Linked DNA regions of Homo sapiens: region 1 is linked to region 2. The links come from fine-mapping of genetic effects on gene expression. A gene starts in region 2. The other region holds a variant in brackets. All regions are shown on one strand. Distances are between the middles of the regions. Region 1 overlaps MACROD2 (mono-ADP ribosylhydrolase 2). Region 2 holds the start of NDUFAF5 (NADH:ubiquinone oxidoreductase complex assembly factor 5).

Region 1 (4,394 bases), 240 kb after region 2:
AGGTCATTTCTGTTTTTCTCTAAACTGGTTATTCTAGTTAGCAATTCCTCTAACCTTTTTTCAAGTTTCTTAGCTTCCTTGCATTGGGTTAGAGCATGCTTCTTTAGCTTGGAGGAGTTTGTTATTACCCACCTTCTGAAGCCTACTTCTGTCAATTTGTCAAACTCATTCTCTGTCCCATTTTGTTCCCTTGCTGACGAGGAGTTGTGATCCTTGGGAGGAGAAGAGGCATTCTGGTTTTCGGAATTTTCAGCCTTTTTGCATTGGTTTTTCCTCATCTTCGTGATGTGGACGTCCTTTTTGTTGATGTTGATGCTGTTCCTTTCTGTTTGTTAATTTTCCTTCTAACAGTCAGGCCCCACTGCTGCAGGTCAGCTGGAGTTTCTTGGAGGTCCACTGCACACCCGGTTTGCCTGGGTATCACCAGCAGAGGCTGCAGAACAGCAAAGATTGCTGCCTGTTCCTTCCTCTGGAAGCTTTGTCCCAGAAGGGCACCTGCCAGATGCCAGCCGGAGCTCTCCTGTATGAGGTGTCTGTCGACCCCGGCTGGGAGGTGTCACCTAGTCAAGAGGTAAAAGGGTCAGGGACCCACTTGAGGAGGCAGTCTGTCCCTTAGCAGAGTGTGAGGGCTGTGCTGGGAGATCCGCTGCTCTCTTTAGAGCCAGCAGGCAGGAATGTTTACTTCTGCTGAAGCTGCGCTCACAGCCGCCCCTTCCCCCAGGTACTCTATCCCAGGGAGTTGGGAGTTTTACCTGTAAGCTCCTGACTGGGGCTGATGCCTTTCTTTCAGAGATGCCCTGCCCAGAGAGGAGGAATCTAGAGAGGCAGTATGGCTACAGCGGCTCTGCGGAGCTGCAGTGGACTCCGCCTAGTTTGAAGTTCCTGGCGCTTTGTTTACACTGTAAGGGGAAAGCTGCCTCCTCAAGCCTCAGTAATGGCAGCTACTCTCCCTCCCCACCCGCCCACCAAGCTTGAGCATCCCAGGTCCACTTCATACTGCTGTGCTGGCAGCAAGAATTACAAGCCAGTGGATCTTAGCTTGCTGGACCCCGTGGGGGTGGGATCTGCTGAGCTAGACCACTTGGTTCCCTGGCTTCAGCCCCCTTTCCAGGGGAATGAACAGTACGGTCTTGCTGGCGTTCCAGGCGCCACTGGGGTATGAAAAAAAACTCCTGCAGCTAGCTCGGTGTCTGCCCAAACAGCCACCCAGTTTTGTGCTTGAAACCCAGGGCCCTGGTGGTGTAGGCAACCAAGGGAATCTGCTGGTCTGCAGGTTGCGAAGACCATGGGAAAAGCGTAGTATCCAGGCTGGAATGCACCATTCCTCATGGCACAGTCCCTCATGGCTTCCCTTGGCTAGGGAAGGGAGTTCTCCGACCCCTTGTGCTTTCTGGGTGAGGTGATGCCCCACCCTGCTTCTGCTCGCCCTCCCTCTGTCAACCAGTCCCAGTGAGATGAGCCAGGTACCTCAGTTGGAAATGCAGAAATCAACCGTCATTGATCTCGCTGGGGGCTGCAGACCGGAGCTGTTCCTATTCGGCTGTCTTGCTCCAGAGCCCAATTCTTCTCAATCATTTTTTTCTTACCCAGAGTTGTCTGTTTTTCCACAGAGTATCTTTTCTGTGCAGTTAGGAAAGTTGATGATATAGCATACTTCATCCACTGTACTTTGATCTGGGATTTTCTTCTTAACCATTGATACTGGTTTCTGTAAGTGTTAATGCTGGCACTTTCTTCATGTTACCGGATGATGTTAATGAAAGGTTTTCAGACAGTTGCTAGCTCA[T/C]ATTCTTTCTTCAACTGTTCGTTAAATGGATTGTTGCCTGGAATGTTGAGAGGTTGCAATTGTCCAGTTATATCACTGGAAAAAACAACTAAGTTCTTATACAGGCAGAGAGAACTGTCATTGTCACCACCTCTTCAGTAGCAACTATAAATGTCTTTAATTGTAAGCCATCTGCCAATTTCAGAGAAGTTAACATGTTAGGGGAAAAAACGCATCATAGAATTGAACATATATAGTATGTTGAATTTGTTTTGAAATTCAGGTTTTTGTGTCTTGTAATATTTGAGGCTTTCCTCCTTCCCCCATCATGCCTAGCCTAGTCAAAATACTTTTTATTGAATTTATTAAAATAATTACAGTTTATCATGATCCATAGTTTAGAAAAAGAAAGGATATGGGGGCAAGATGGGTAACTTCAGTGACTTTAAGGGCTGAAAGCAACAATTTGGAGCATCGTGTCAAAGTTGTGGGAATCTGATTTTAGAACAATATAAGAAAAAATTTAAAAAATTTTAATTACTTCTGAATGAAGTGGACTCTGACAGTGAATTTGCTGTCATTGAAAGTATTCAGAGAGGTTCTAGATACAAATCACCCAGACACAGTAAAAGCAATTTCTTCACTGGGTGGTAATTGAAGAATATGTTGTTTAATGTGTTTTTCTGACTATTGATATTCCTATTCTAAAATAATTTACCTTTGTACTAAGTGGCCTTCTCTTTTCAGATACTCAACAATGTAATTTATCGATACTTTCTGTTATTGATTGGAACACCATTGAGTTTCTTTCTTAATGTAAGACAGGCAACTAAATGCAAATTACTGTTCTGTTTCTAATTAAGTGATGAAATACACTAAGCCAGGTCATTCTTTGAAACACTGATTGACACAGTGGGAGGAGGGAGCTAAGAAATAGTACTTTTTTTCCTTGCAGATTTTACTTGCAAAGTATTGTAACCTGATTTTCCTTCAGGTCACCTAGATTGGAGTACAGTGATGCGATCTTAGCTCACTGCAGCCTCCAACTCCAGGGCTTAAACCATCCTTCCACTCCTAGCTCAGCCTCTGGAGTAGCTAGGACTACGGAAACTTGCTACCACTTGTGGCTATTTTTTTATTTTTTGTAGAGACAGGATCTTGCTATGATGCCCAGGCTGGTCTCAAATGCCTAGGCTCAAACCATCCATCTGCTTCAGCCTCCCAGTGTGCTGGGGTTATAGGCATGAGTTACTGTGCCCAGCCTATACTCTTCTAATTTTTGATTCTTTCAGGGTTTAGTTGGTGAAAGAGCCATTATGAATTTTATTTTTTAATTTAATTTCTTTTTTTTTGAGATGGAGTCTTGTGGTGATGCCCAGGCTGACGTGCAGTGGCGTGATTTCGGCTAGCTGCAACCTCTGCCTCCCGGGTTCAAGCGATTCTCCTGACTTAGCCCCACTGAGTAGCTAGGACTACAGGCACACACCACCATGACCAGCTAATTTTTGTATTTTTAGCAGAGACAGAGTTTTCCAGTGTTGGCCAGGCTGGTCTCGAACTCCTGACCTCAGAGGATCTGCCTGCCTTGGCCTCCCAAAGTGCTGGGATTACAGGTATGAGCCAGAATTTTATTTTTAATCAAAAAAAGGTTTTAAGGAAATGGCTCACCTTCCTTCCCTCCCTCCCTCCCTCCAAAGGACTTGTGGTCAGACTCTTTGGAATTGCCAGTACTTAATCAGCTGAATGAAGAATTTTCTGATCTTTCTGTTTAGTAGTTCAAATGGTCATTACCAGGATTCTTTGTATACTTTTGGGGAGCAAATTAAATAGATGAAAGACAGCCAACTTTTAGGATGAGAGATAGGCATAGATATATCGTTTTCTTATCTTCTTCCACATACTCAAATTTAGATATCAGGTTATCCATGATTTGCTTTTTAGTTCACCAGACATAGTGAAGTTAACACTCCTAATTTAGTTTTGGCTATATATAACTTGCTAACAGCTCTAGCCTGGGATTTTAAAGACAGCTTAACTATGTTCATGGAATGCTATGACTGGCTAAATATGACTCTTTAATGTTTCATAAAACATGTCTTTTTCCTAAATAGGGTTGTAACATTCTCTTAAATATTTCATGCATGTCTTTCTCTCTCTGTGAGACAGATCTCTCTAGATTTCTCTGGTTTTATTTCTGACATGCTATATGAAGTACTTTTTATTTAAAAGTAAGTACAATATGTAGTATCTCAGTGTGCATATGGCTTGGATGCTTACTTTGACGATGAAAAATTGCTTAAATATGCTGACATCTGAATTGTATCTGTAAATTAATGTTAGCAACTTGAGACTCAGTAATTGTTTCTTAAAATGGATTCTAATTAGTTACAAGTAAAAAGTAACTTTCCCTTAAATGTTGGTTGTATTAATTACAAATACTTTAAAAAGATATATTAAAATGATAAATCTAATTTTTTTCCTGGACATTGATTTATGTTGTGTGATGACATAACAGTACTGGAAATCAGTAGAGGTGACACTGCTGTACATTTGTAGCTATTTATATTTTGTTGTATTTTTATAAAACAAAGAAATACATCAGATCATAGTCATTATAAAGCATTAAAAA
Region 2 (4,394 bases):
CTTCGGACTTATGTTTGAATCTATCTTAAATTTACATGAGGTTTTCATTTTTTTAATTCCTATAGAATTATCTAAATCAGTTTTATTTTCAGAACCCTTGTGATTAGCCTTCTTGGTTTCTTTCTTTTTCTCAACTAGATTTTTTGAATCGATTTCTTTTTTAGTCTGGGTTTTTTTCTTCTTTATTTTCTTTTGACTCAATGCTTTGCTATCTTCACCAGAGAGATTGGAATCAGAATCTGAAAGGTCGTAAAAACGCTTCAAATCCTCTGTAGTGCTATGGCTAATGGGGCGCCCTCTTTTATCCACGGCATAGTTCAACTTGAACTTCTTGTCATGAAACATGGCTCGAAATCTCTTGTCAATTTTGACTTTTCGATCCTTTTCTGGCATTTCCCAAAATCTCGGGTCCTTTGCAACCCGTCTAAACCGCTGGTCACTCATTATTTCTTGTTTGGATGACATTTTTAATTCTTAATCTCGACCAAATGCTTGAAGAAAACAAATACTGAAAAATAAAACAAATGTTTTAATGGTAATAATGGTTAGTACAATAATTAAATGTTTTAAAACACATTCACAATATATTCTAAGTTAATATATTCTAAGTTAAGTGTACATAAAATAGAGGTAACAAGTCTAATTTCATCTCTCCAACGTATTCTGGGTCACATGCAAAAAAGCAGAAACATACCAAAATATCCTCTTTCCATGACAGATCATTTAGAGAAATAAACTTAAGGTAGACAAAGCAGAATCCCAGGGCTTTATGGAGGGGAACAAATGTTTATTCATCCATTGCTCTCACTTAGAATTTCTATTTGTATACCAGTATGTGTTACTAATTGAAGGCAAATGTAGTTAAGATTCCCTAGGCCGAGTGCGGTGGCTCACCAGCACTTTCGGAGGCCAAGGCGGGCGGATCACTTGAGCCCAGGAGTTCAGGACCAGCCTGGGTAACATGGTGAATCCCCACAAGAAATACAAAAATGAGCCCGGCATGGTGGCGCGCGCCTGTAGTCCCAGCTACTTTGGAGGCTAAGGCAAGAGGATCACTTCCACCCGGGAGGTCTTGGCTAGAGTGAGCCTAACGGCACTACAGCACACCAGCTGGGGCAACAGAGTGAGACCCTGTCTACCAAAAAAAAGTAAGAAAGAAAGATTCCCTAGCCTCCGTTGGCCTCATTTGTTTCTTCACATTCTGGTCTCATTCTGCTTACTCCTTATCTCCGGCTACTGCCAACAAACAGCCTTTAGTTCTGTAAGACTAGCATTCTAACTAAACAGACCAAAATCAACTCAGGTTTAGCTAAGAAAGTTTCCTTTTTAAATTCGATCATCCTTCAAAAGTAATAAAAAGTTTAAAAATAAAAAGTAAATTTGAGTCTCCAGGTAAAGTCTCACACCAGTTAATAAATATCACTTCTTTCTATAATATCTGATTCTACCAGTGATGAAGGCCCAAGTGAGCTCATTCCCCCAAAACATACTAGAACATATACATATGTGTGTATAAATTAATATTGTTCCCTTGTGAAAAGTCTCCAATGGTTTAGCATCTCTGGATGGGAATTTTGCAAAGAGCCAAAAGTCGTTGATTATTAAGCAACCCCCCCCCAAAATGATTAAAAGGGCAATATTTCTTATTTAAAAATCAAGTCCTTTTAATTACACTAACTAGGAAAAAAAAGGAAGCTATCGCTGGTGCATTTACACATTTTTCGATGTATTACAGCACTTAACTCTCTGAGCAATCTTACGAGGTAGGTACCACCTCAACCAGGAGAAGTACTGCATGTATTGTAAATGTTTAGAAGGAAAGCACTCATTATATGTCAGATAATCCGAGAGAGGGGAAGGCGACCGGACCTCACTCCCGACACGCGCCCGCATCCCCGTAGCCCACCCTCCCCTTCTGCCCGCTCTCTAATTCGGAGAACACAGGGCTGGCCCCTGAACTAGGGTCTCCTTTCCACCTCCTGTACCGCAGGGGGGCAGCTAACAGACTGATTCGAGAAGCGACCCTGAAAAGGATCGATGAAGACTGAAGAATGAGACCGAAAAAGGCTCAGGAGGAAGGGGCAAAACCCCTCGCAGATCCGAAAGAGATCCTGTTAGAGACTAGTTTTTTCCCCGCGCCACACACACACACGCCCTCAAGCCCTTCATCTCGAGCTCTTCAACTCCAGTCCATCCCCACTCACCGTCCGCAGTCCTACCAAGCCTCACGTGGGGCTCACACCCACAATCCTCCGCGTGACGCTCCGCCGTAATGGCAAGCGAACTAGGCCAAACTACTTGCACGTTCCCTCGAGAAGATCTTTGGAGTAGACACAAAAGCCGCGCTGGCGCATGCGCACAAAAAGCGCCGGCAATTGGGGTCGCAGCTGGAGATGCTGCGGCCGGCAGGGCTCTGGCGCTTATGTCGGCGACCTTGGGCGGCGAGGGTCCCAGCGGAGAATCTTGGCCGTAGGGAAGTCACCTCTGGTGTCTCTCCCCGCGGTAGCACCTCGCCCAGAACCCTGAATATTTTCGACCGGGATTTGAAAAGGAAACAGAAGAACTGGGCAGCCCGGCAGCCCGAGCCGACCAAATTTGACTACCTGAAGGAGGAGGTGAGCCCGCGGGGCGGCGGGGCGGCGGGGCGGGCGACGCGGAGGCTTGTTTTCCTCTCCGCTAGTTCCGGCTAGGCCCCGAGCTCACCCCACCTAGCCGTCTGACCTTGACCAGCAGCCCTGCCTCTTTCGGCCTCTACTGTAATCACGCAAGGCCTGGCCTCGGATATTTGTAACATGCTTTCATTCATTCATGCATTCATTTCGGCAACGTCCTTGAGGCTGAAAGGACCTTATAGAGGCCTCCAGTGAAGCTCCGGAGAGGGAGAGAGTGGGAGAGAAGGTTAGGAGGACCCAAATCATCAGGGCCTTGCAGGATAGGGACTTGGGGTTTTCTTCTGTATCTGCACTGTCCAGCCAGTATGGTAACTGCCGGCCACACATGTGGCTGTTGAACACTTGAAAGGTGACTAGTCCAATTGAGATGTGTTGTAAAATACACACGAGTATAGTGACTTAGTATGAAAAAAGGATGTAAAATAGCTCATTAAGAGCTTTTATATTGATTACATGTTGCAGTGATTATTTTTGATATATTGGGTCACATGAAATATATTAAATATAAATTTAAATTTTTCAATTAAAATTTCTCTCGTTTTTACTTTTTTTCTTATGTGGCTACTAGAAAATTTGAAATTACATATGTGGCTCTCATGATTTTTGGTCAGCACTGCTCTAGGGGAATGTGAAGCTCTTGTTTTAATCAGTGGAGTGATCTGACTTATGTTTTAGGAAGATCAAATTAAGATTTCTGATTTGTCTTGGCTCGTTTGAGAAACCTTTCTCCCTGCCCAGGTGAGCCAGAGACTGAGGGTTTCTACTTTCAGGACACGCATTCTCAAGTTCAGGCCTCAGTAAATTTTTATTCAGGAGTGGAACAAAGTTGGAGTCAAGTATAATGCAACAAACAGTTATTGAACTCATAGCTTGAGCAGAGCTCTGTGCAAGTACAGGTCTGATCAGATGATTGACAGGGTGTCTTTCTCAGGAAGTCTTAGGCTGGTAATGTCTATTATAGGAAGTTTACTACCAATAAATTTTTTGTGTCTCACTTGTAAGGCATGGTGCACGTACTACACTGCTGATGTCGTGTACTTAGAAGATGTGCGCTCATAGCCCTTTCCCTCCAAAGAAAGCACCTGGACTACAACTTGATTGAGGCCTCGCCAATTTGTGAGACTAGAACAAATAAGATAAAGTATATGAGAGTTCTTTTTATAATAAACATAGGGTGTTCATATTAGGAATGACGTACAAGGTGGACTCCTGGGAAAAACATCTACGCTCCCTTCTCCCTTGCCCTTCTCTCAAAAAGCAGGTACATCTGTGTTTGGAACTTTTAAGTCCTAAGAGCAACTCTGGGGTGTTTATGAGGGAATGAGTGGAATGTGGGGAATACTAGACTCCCACGTCTTTATTGCTACCAGATGAAGCTAGGCCAGCAAAAGGTGGTGCTTACCTTATGACTCTTAAATTGGGATGGGATTGGAGCAGGGGAGGTGCACTTTCCTCAGATTTGGCTTTTTCTAACTTGCGAATGTCACTCAGAAAAGTTGTTCATTTATGAGTTCCACAAAATTTGTTAGTCATCAAATAATAGAGTTTTTCTTAAGTGACCACTTACATACTCATCTACAATAAACCCCAACTAACTAATTTTTCACTTTGTGTACCTCATGCTAATATCCGTGGACAGTAATGTGCCTGTTGTGTTCCTTTTGCTTTTCATCCTTGTGATCTTATGTCACATGGAATGTAAAGGCCACATATATATATGTG

The links.
Region 1: its variant is fine-mapped to the expression of NDUFAF5 in blood mononuclear cells (TOPMed, PIP 0.97). The same link has a PIP of 0.9 or more in whole blood.

What each region holds. Positions count from the first base shown.
Region 1 is chr20:14,027,310-14,031,703 of GRCh38, forward strand. All of the region lies in intron 2 of MACROD2 (mono-ADP ribosylhydrolase 2), which reads left to right. Among named protein-coding and RNA genes, the nearest start is that of MACROD2, 34 kb to the left of the region's middle. The variant T/C (reference allele first, on the strand shown) is at 1,787.
Region 2 is chr20:13,782,676-13,787,069 of GRCh38, forward strand. It overlaps NDUFAF5 (NADH:ubiquinone oxidoreductase complex assembly factor 5), which reads left to right and starts at 2,353. Exons shown (of 11, transcript NM_024120.5): 1 at 2,353-2,615. The coding sequence starts at 2,394. It overlaps ESF1 (ESF1 nucleolar pre-rRNA processing protein), which reads right to left and starts at 2,244. Exons shown (of 14, transcript NM_001276380.2): 1 at 2,205-2,244; 2 at 1-508. The coding sequence starts at 465. RefSeq lists enhancers at 2,289-2,578, 2,574-3,263.